Regions from separate parts of the Homo sapiens genome. Here region 2 is linked to region 1. The links come from fine-mapping of genetic effects on gene expression. A gene starts in region 1. The other region holds a variant in brackets. All regions are shown on one strand. Distances are from middle to middle.

Region 1 (4,382 bases):
TCTCAGGGAGGCCAGTTGGGGGCAGGTCCTGGATCTGTTTTAGGTACCTGAAGCCCAAAGAATAGGATACACTGGCTCTGCTATTCTTTCCCACCCCTCGCCTATCTACCCCTCAGGCCAGACTACTGCACCCCTGCTCCTATCACTGTGTGACTTGTCCGGCAATCATTTCTTTTTTTCTTTTGAAATGGAGTCTTGCTCTGTCACCCAGGCTGGAGTGCAGTGGCGCGATCTTGGCTCACTGCAACCTCTGCCTCCCGGGTTCAAGCAATTCTCCTGCCTCAGCCTCCCGAGTAGCTGGGACTACAGGTGCATGCTGCCATGCCTGGCTAATTTTTTTGTATTTTAATAGAGACAGGGTTTCACTGTGTTGTCCAGGCTGGTTTTGAACTCCTGAGCTCAGGCAATCTGCTCACCTCAGCCTCCCGAAGTGCTAGGATTACAGGCATGAGCCACCGTGCCTGGCCTTGGCAATCATTTCTTTTTTCTTTTTTTGTTTGGTGTTTTGAGACAGAGTCTTGCTCTCACCCAGGCTGAAGTGCAATGGCATGAGCTCAGCTCACTGCAACCTCCGCCTCCTGGGCTCAAGTGATCCTCCCACCTCACCCACCTCGGCTCCCAAAGTTCTGGGATTACAGGCATGAGGCACTGCATGTGGCCTCTGGCAAGCATTTAAAAGCCTGTTCTGTGACAGCCCATGACATCAGATCCACTCAAGTGGAGGGCTGGATAGAGCCCCCGACACATCCGCTGGCATGGAGGTTCAGCTCAGGAGTACAGGAGCCCTGAGGAGGCTCCTGACTCACCGCTCCATGGTCCCAAACAGCCAGTGGGGCTCCTTGGTGAAAGGCATCTCCATGCCATGAAATTGCGCCATCTTCGTGGCAATGGCTGCTGACAACACTGGCTCTCGAAGCTCTTGAGTTTTCAATGGCCGACTCTGCACCCAGGAAGCTATCAGGGTGGTGATGGGGCTGGGGCAGGAGTGGGAAGGGCTGGGGCAATGAGGGGAAGTCAGGGTTTTGGGGGAAATTCCCTACTTGGGGTGAGGGATGTGGAGGCAGACATTGGGCACTGGGGTAGGGTTAGGGGGTGGAGGTGCCTTGGGGAGGAGAGGGTAGGACTGGGCCCGTACTGGGATGTACTGTTCCAGCCGGCCCTCTGGGAAGACTCCGTACAGCTGGGGCCCCAGCGACCGCTCCGCAAGTATGGCGAACATCACGCTTTCTAGCACCAGGGAGTCCACGCCCTGAAAAAGGATGGACAGCAAAGGGGCCAAGGCAAAGTGGCACAGGGACACACATGAGGGCTCGCCTTCCTCCCACCAGAGCTGCGACTTCTGATCCAATTGCCTGGAGGCTCTGGAGCACAGGCTTTAGCGTTGGTCTATTTTTATTTAGAGATGGGGGTCTCACTATGTTGTCCAGGCTGGTCTCGAACTCCTGTGCTCAAGTGATCCTCTCGCCTCAGCCTCCCAAAGCTCTGGGAATACAGGCCCAGGCTTCGGTGTAATGAGGTGTTACTCAGACCGTGAACCTCGGTGTCCTCAACTGCGCAACGGGAACAATACTACCCGCATCGCGTAAGCGACAGGCCCTAAAGCCACTGGTGCTGCGGCGCTCACACCCCCCTCACCTGCAAGATGGCTCCGTACAGCCGCAGAAGCACCTCCCGGGGCTCCTCGCCAACGCTGGGCAGGTGGTCCGGGAGCGAGCAGCGGAAGAGCAGGTTGCTGAGGCCTCCGCTGCAGACCCACACCAGGCGCGCTCAGCCCGCGGCCGGCCCTACCTGCCGCGGCCCCGGCCCCCTCCCGGCCAGGCCGGCCCCGCCCCGCCCCAGGCGCGGGCGCAAGAGGGGGGCGAAAACATGGAGCATCCTGAGGGCCCCGCGGCTGACCCCTGACCCCGATCCGCGCACCGGAGAGGCTGACCCCTGACCTCCCACCTCACGGGGTAAACCCTCAGCTCCTCGGGCTGCACTCGGCGCCAGGCCCCGCCCAAGTACTCCCGGCACCATTGGTAGGCTCGGCGCTCGGCGTCACGCGACAGCGACGAGGCGCGCCGCCGTTTTGGGGTAGTGTCCGGGCACTTAGACTGCTGCAAGCCGTCTTTGGCCAGGCAGCCGCCAACAGCCCCGCTTCCGGCCACAGCTGTCGCCTCGGCCGCCATGGCGCGGGCTCGACCGGGCCCCAGGCCAGGCTGCGCTCCGCTCCCTTCGGACGGGCTCGGTTCCTTCCGGCCGCGCTCGGCTCCTCTTCCGGCCGGCCTGGGCTTCTCCGGTCATACTCGGGTCTCTCCGGCTCTATTCGGCTCACGGCTGCGGCGCTCGGCTCTCTCCGTGCCCCGGCCCGGGGGCTCTTTCCGAAGGCCGAATTCCGCAGATCTCTGCCGGGCCCCGCCCCTATGGGCAAGGACCAATGGTCTCTCTCTGGGCGGGGCTGCTGTTGGACGGCCTGGGCCAATCCGAGGCGCCGGAGGCCAATCAGTTGGCGGAGCGGCGCGTGCGCGGGCGAGGAACTGCCCGGGCGCGGTAGCGTACGGGAAGACCGGAGAGGAGCTGCGTCTCTGCCCCGTGGGAGCCGGCGGGGCGGCGGGGCGGCGGCTGCAGCTGCAGCTCCGGCGCGAGGGCTCCCTTGCCGGGCCCTCTTCCCCGACCCCTGGGGCGCTCCGACAAGGAAGAGCCGTCCAGCGCGCGTCCGTCCTGAGCGTGGGTGAGGCCTGGAGGAGGCGCGCGCGCTAGGCAGGGCCGCACAGCGCGGGCAGAGTGCGGGATGCGGGCACCCGGTGGGTACGCAGTAAACATTTGCTGAAGGAATGTGACCCTTGGGACAGTTCCGATGACTCCAGTTGCATAAATGCCCAGTCTACACGGGGACTCCCTGGCCGGTAGAGCCGCACCTCTGAATGAGGAGTCTTTTGCTGCCCCGCTTGAGATGCGCGTCTTCATTCATTCCCCTCTCCCCCTATCCTCCTCGTCTCCTCCAGGCCTAGAACCAATTACAGAGTCAAACCCAAGAGCCGAAGAAAGTGAAGACTCGCAGCTTGCCGCAGCCCCCTCCTCGGCCTGCGCACCTCCCATTGAGGGCGTCCTGATTTAAACGCGTGCCTCCTGCATTTCTGCTTCTGCCCCAGGCTAGAGCGGCGACCAGGAACGCTGGACCCACAGAGATCTGTGGCAATGTCTGTCGAACCATGGTGTTCTTTGGGGCATCTGACTAGAGTATTGTTTGATAACCAGAAAGAAATCAAAAATTGGTGATCACAAGGCTAATGTCACTTTTGCTGCAGTGGAAAATCATGATCATTCTGTTTAAATCTGAGTCAGTTTTGAGACCTAGAGCCCATTAATTGACAAGGAGGCTTGGTTCCTCTCAGGAAGGATCTTACAATACCAGCATCTGAGCATATACCAAGAAATATTCCTCCAATCCTTCCCTAAAGGGACCTAGAGCCACTTTAAAAAGTAACTGGTCCGGGCGTGGTGGCTCACGCCTGTACTCCCAGCATTTTGGGAGGCCGAGGCGGGCAGATCACTTGAGGTCAGGAGTTTGAGACCACCCTGGCCAACATAGCGAAACCCCGTCGCTACTAAAAATACAAAAATTAGCCGGGTTTGGTGGCTTGTGCCTGTAATCCCAGCTACACGGGAGGCTGAGGCGTGACAATCCCTTGAACCCAGGCCTTGTTGCCGCGAGCCACTGCACTCCAGCCTGAGCGACAGAGTCAGACTCAGTCTCAAAAAAAAAAAAAAAAAAAAGAAAACTGATTCTGGCTGGGGGCAGTGGGTCACGCTTTTAATCCCTGCACTTTGGGAAGCCGAAGTAGGAGGATCGTTTGAGCCCAGGAGTTTGAGACCAGCCTGGGCAACATAGCAAGAACCTGTCTTTACAAAAATTAAAAGATTAGCTGGGCGTGGTGGCAGGTGCCTGTGGTTCCAGCTACTCTGGATGCTGAGGTGAGAGAATCACTTAAGCCCAGGAGGTCAAGGCTGCAGTGACCTGTGTTCACGCCACTGCACTCCAGCCTGAGCAACACAGCAAGACTGTCTGAACAGCAACAACAAACACACCAAAAAAACTAGTTTACTTCGGAAAAGGGACTGTCTAGGTCTTTGAAGGGCTGATACAGGATCTGAGCTGACACTGTTTCCAGGAGCCCTGAAGCATCATGGCCCTCTCATTAGGGTGCAGGCTTATGGAAATCAGATGATAAGCAGAATTCCCAACCCGAGTCCTGTGGTTACTTCTCTGGTCTCAATGCATACTTGGGATGTTTTTACCTAGCAGAGGGCGGAGCGTATACATTGATCCCAGGCCTTTGGTACCATATGTAAGGAAGCGCAAAGTAGAAACCTTTGAAACTCCTCACCCTACTGAAACCTTT
Region 2 (4,382 bases), 33 kb after region 1:
ACCCTGACTTTCCTGGGTCTTCGTGCAACAGCCTGCTCCGGCCGCTGCCTCACTGCACCTGCAAATCCACTTGCACCCACACCCAGGCCAGGGTTTTTAAACAGAAGCCTCAGCAGATCCCTCTCTCTGGCCAGCTCCCTGTTGAACCAGGAAGCAGGTCCCTGTTGAACCTCAGCATGACCCGCCCCCACCCCTGCATCCCACTTCTGCTCTGGGAGCCTCTGGGTTCCTGGGCGCACCTGCTGCCCTTCCCTGTTTGTCACTGGGTGACCTCCCGTCCTTGTGGGCGCTCCCGGGCCCTGGTCTCGGGCCTTCTGAGGACTTGCTCTCCTGGTAGCGGCTGCTGACTGTGAGCCCAGAGAGCAGGCGTGGCTGTTGACCTTAGGTCCTCCCAGAACCTGGCGGATCGCCTGGCTCCCAGGCAGGAGGCGCTGCATGACGCCTCCAACTTCCGCCAATCTAGCCCAAGGATGGCGTTCTAAATAAAACGCGTTCTACAGAAAAGTGTTTATTGCATTCTTCTTTGAAATAATGTAAGCATAAAAGTAATCTGAATATTGACCAATAGGGTTAATTGATTAAGGTATATTTACCTAATTGAAATATTGGGTAGATGTGAAAAAAAGTTCCAATGTTTGTAATTACACAGAAAATTTCTGTTATGCTATTAAGTGGAAATAAATTTCTGGGCACAGCAGCTCATGCTACTGTGTAATCTTAGCAATTTGGGAGGCCAAGGTGGGCAGATCCCTTGAGTCTGGGAGTTCGAGACCAGCCTGAGCAACAAAGCGAAACCTCTATCTCTACAAAAAAAAAAAAAAAAAAATACAAAAATTATCTAGGTGTGGTGGCACACACCTGTAGTCCCAGTTACTTGGGTGGGTAAGGGAGGAGGATAGCTTGAGCCTAGGAGGTTGAGGCTGCAGTGAGCCATGATCATGCCACCACACTCTGGCTGGAAAGAGCAAGACCCTGTAACCACAATGAAAGAAAAGAAGAGAGAGAGAGAGAGAGAAAGAGAGAGAGAGAGAGAGAGAGAGATGAAAGAAAGAAAGAGAAAGAAAGAAAATAGGCAGGGTCATATGTAGCATTCTAGAAACTATATGTTGAAAAATGCTGAAACACAAAAAATGTTAAAAGTCATTTTTGGCCGGGCGCAGTGGCTCATGCCTGTAATCCCAACACTTTGGGAGGCTGAGGCAGGCGGATCATGAGGTCAGGAGATCGAGACCATCCTGGCTAACACGGTCAAACCCCATCTCTACTAAAAATACAAAAAATTAGCCGGGTGTGGTGGCAGGCGCTTGTAGTTCCAGCTACTCGGGAGGCTGAGGCAGGAGAATGGCATGAACCTGGGAGGCGGAGCTTGCAGTGAGCCAAGATCGCGCCACTGCACTCCAGCCTGGGAGACAGAGCAAGACTCCGTCTCAAAAAAAAAAAAAAAAAAAAAAAAAAAAAAAAAAAAAACCACCTCATTTTTGCTGAAGTTGAGCTGAGGGTGTTTCTCTTCCTTTTTTTCCTGCAGCAAATATGTCTTAATTTTTTGAAGTATTATTTGCTACTTATTAGAGACCTCCAAGTGCAAATGGAAATATCCACAGAAAAACTAAAGATAAAAAAGTTAAGATAAATTAATCAAACTCAAACAAAAAAGTTATTTTGGCTACAATAAAAATACCACCCCATAAGGTTATCATAAGGCTTAAATGAATCTGCCAGTCAGACAGGCCAAGGGTAGTGCTTGAGTAAGTTATTATTTTTATAAACACTATAAAAGTAGGATTTCCCTATTTTTAAAAATATTACTTTCCCTGGCTGGGCGTGATGGCTTGCACCTGTAATCCCAGCACTTTGGGAGGACGAGGCGGGTGGATCACCAGGTCAGGAGATCGAGACCATCCTGGCTAACACGGTGAAACCCCGTCTCTACTAAAAATACAAAAACAAAATTCGCTGGGCATAGTGGTGGGCACCTGTGGTCCCGGCTACTCGGGAAGCTGAGGCAGGAGAGTGGCGTGAACCCGGGAGGCGGAGCTTGCAGTGAGTGGAGACCGCACCACTGCACTCCAGCCTGGGAGACAGAGTGAGACTCTGTCTAAAA[GAA/G]AAAAAAAAAAATTACGTTCCCTATAAAGAGTAACACATATCATAGACATTTTGGAGACTGCAGATGATAGAAGAAAGGCTAAAATCAACTGTATTTTTATGGCCCAGAGATAACTGTTTCTAATATTTTGGTGTATTTTTTCCAGTCTCCCTTCTACTTGAGGGTTGAAGGCAGAGGGAGGTTAGGGGAATCAAGAAGAATTTAAGGCAAAAGATAAAAGCAAAATAGCAGAGGTCGCTGCAGGCATACCTTGGAGATTTTGCAGGTTTGGTTCTAGACCACCACACTAAGATTGCAACAACGTGAGCCACACAAATTTTCTGTTTTCCAGCGTATATAAAAGTTATGTTGGCCAGGAATGGTGGCTCATGCCTGTAATCTCAGCACTTTGGGAGGCCAACGCAAGCAGATCGCTTGAGCCCAGGAGTTTAAGACTAGCAGGGACAACATAAAAAAACCCGGTCTGTATATATATTGTATACCTGTATATTTTATAGATATACACGTATGTAGTATATAGATATACATGTATATAATATATATAAATACATGCATATTTTATATATATATATATATATTAGCTGGGTGTGGTGGCATGTGCCTGTAGCCCCAGCTATTCAGGAAGCTGAGGTGAGAGAATTGCTTGAGCTTGGGAGGTTGAGGCTGCAGTGAGCTGTAATTACACCACTGCACTCCAGTGTGGATGACAGAGTGAGAACTTGTCTCAAAAAAAAAAAAAAAGTTATGTTTCCACTATACTGTAGTCTATTGAATGTGCAATAGCTTTTAAAGTATATACCTTAATTTGAAAATACCTTATTGAGCCTGGGCACGATGACTCACAACTGTAATCCCAGCGCTTTGGGAGGCCGAGGTGGGTGGATCACCTGAAGTCAGGAGTTTGAGACCAGCCTGGCCAACATGGTGAAACCCCATCTCTACTAAAAATACAAAAAAAAAAAAAAATAGCCAGATGTGGTGGCAGGCGCCTGTAATCCCAGCTACTTGGGAGGCTGAGGCAGGAGAATTGCTTGAACCCGGGAGACAGAGGTTGCAGTGAGCCGAGATTGCGCCATTGCACCCCAGCCTGGGCAAAAAGAGCAAAACTCCATCTCAAAAGAAATAAAATAAAATAGGGCCGGGCTTGGTGGCTCATGCCTGTGATCCCAGCACTTTGGGAAGCCAAGGCGGGGGGATCACGAGGTCAGGAGATTGAGACCATCCTGGCCAACATGATGAAGCTCCATCTGTACTAAAAATATAAAAAATTAGCCAGGCGTGGCCAGGCTCAGTGGCTCACACCTGTAATCCCAGCACTTTGGGAGGCTGAGGCAGGCGGATCATGAGGTCAGGAGATTGAGACCATCCTGGCCAACATGATGAAGCTCCATCTGTACTAAAAATATAAAAAATTAGCCAGGCGTGGCCAGGCTCAGTGGCTCACACCTGTAATCCCAGCACTTTGGGAGGCTGAGGCAGGCGGATCATGAGGTCAGGAGATCGAGACCATCCTGGCTAACACGGTCAAACCCCGTCTCTACTAAAAATACAAAAAATGAGCCGGGCCTGGTGGCGGGCACCTGTAGTCCCAGCTACTTGGGGAGCCGAGATCACGCCACTGCACTCCAGTCTGGGTGACAGAGCAAGACTCCGTCTTAAAAAAAAAAAAATTAGCCAGGCGTGGTGGCACGCACCTGTAGTCCCACCTACTCTGGAGGCTAAGGCAGGAGAATCGCTTGAACCCGGGAGGCGGAGGCTGCAGTGAGCCAAGATCATGCCACTGCACTCCAGCCTGGGCATCAGAGCGAGACTCTGTTTTGAAAAAAAAAGAAAACACCTTATTGCTAAAAAAATGCCAGTGATCATCTCCACCTTCAGTGAGTCATAATCTTTCTGCCGGTAGAAGGTACTGCGTCAGTGTTGATGGCTGTTGACTGATCGGGGTGGTCGTTGCTGAAGGTTGGAGCAGCTGTGGCAATTTATTAAGACAATGAAGTTTGCCACACTGACTCTTTCATGAAATATTTCTCTATAGCATGTGACACTGTTTGATAGCATTTTATTCATAGTAGAACTTCTTTCAAAATTGAAGTCAACCCTCTCAAACACTGCTGCTGCTTTATCAACTAAGTTTATGTAATATTCTTTTTTTTTTTTTTTAAGAGACAGGGTCTTGTTCTGTCACTTAGGCTGGAGTGCAGTGGTACAATAATGGCTCACTGCAGCCTCGATATCCTGGGTTCAAGTGATCCTCCCACCTTAGCCTCCCGGGTAGCCA

Evidence for each region. PIP is the estimated chance that this variant, and not a neighbour inherited with it, causes the effect. A credible set is the group of variants that fine-mapping cannot tell apart.
Region 2: its variant is the best candidate, but not a certain one, in a credible set for the expression of CHKB-DT in naive CD4 T cells (Schmiedel 2018, PIP 0.71).

Annotation. Positions count from the first base shown.
Region 1 is chr22:50,580,614-50,584,995 of GRCh38, forward strand. CHKB-DT (CHKB divergent transcript) reads left to right here and starts at 2,413. Exons shown (of 4, transcript NR_110536.1): 1 at 2,413-2,710. It overlaps CHKB (choline kinase beta), which reads right to left and starts at 2,236. Exons shown (of 11, transcript NM_005198.5): 1 at 1,945-2,236; 2 at 1,636-1,744; 3 at 1,136-1,249; 4 at 807-940; 5 at 1-47. The coding sequence starts at 2,168. It overlaps CHKB-CPT1B (CHKB-CPT1B readthrough (NMD candidate)), which reads right to left and starts at 2,386. Exons shown (of 30, transcript NR_027928.2): 1 at 1,945-2,386; 2 at 1,636-1,744; 3 at 1,136-1,249; 4 at 807-940; 5 at 1-47. RefSeq lists silencers at 1,733-1,932, 2,263-2,352, 2,383-2,782.
Region 2 is chr22:50,613,475-50,617,856 of GRCh38, forward strand. MAPK8IP2 (mitogen-activated protein kinase 8 interacting protein 2) reads left to right here. Exons shown (of 12, transcript NM_012324.6): 12 at 1-504. Among named protein-coding and RNA genes, the nearest start is that of ARSA, 12 kb to the right of the region's middle. The variant GAA/G (reference allele first, on the strand shown) is at 2,102.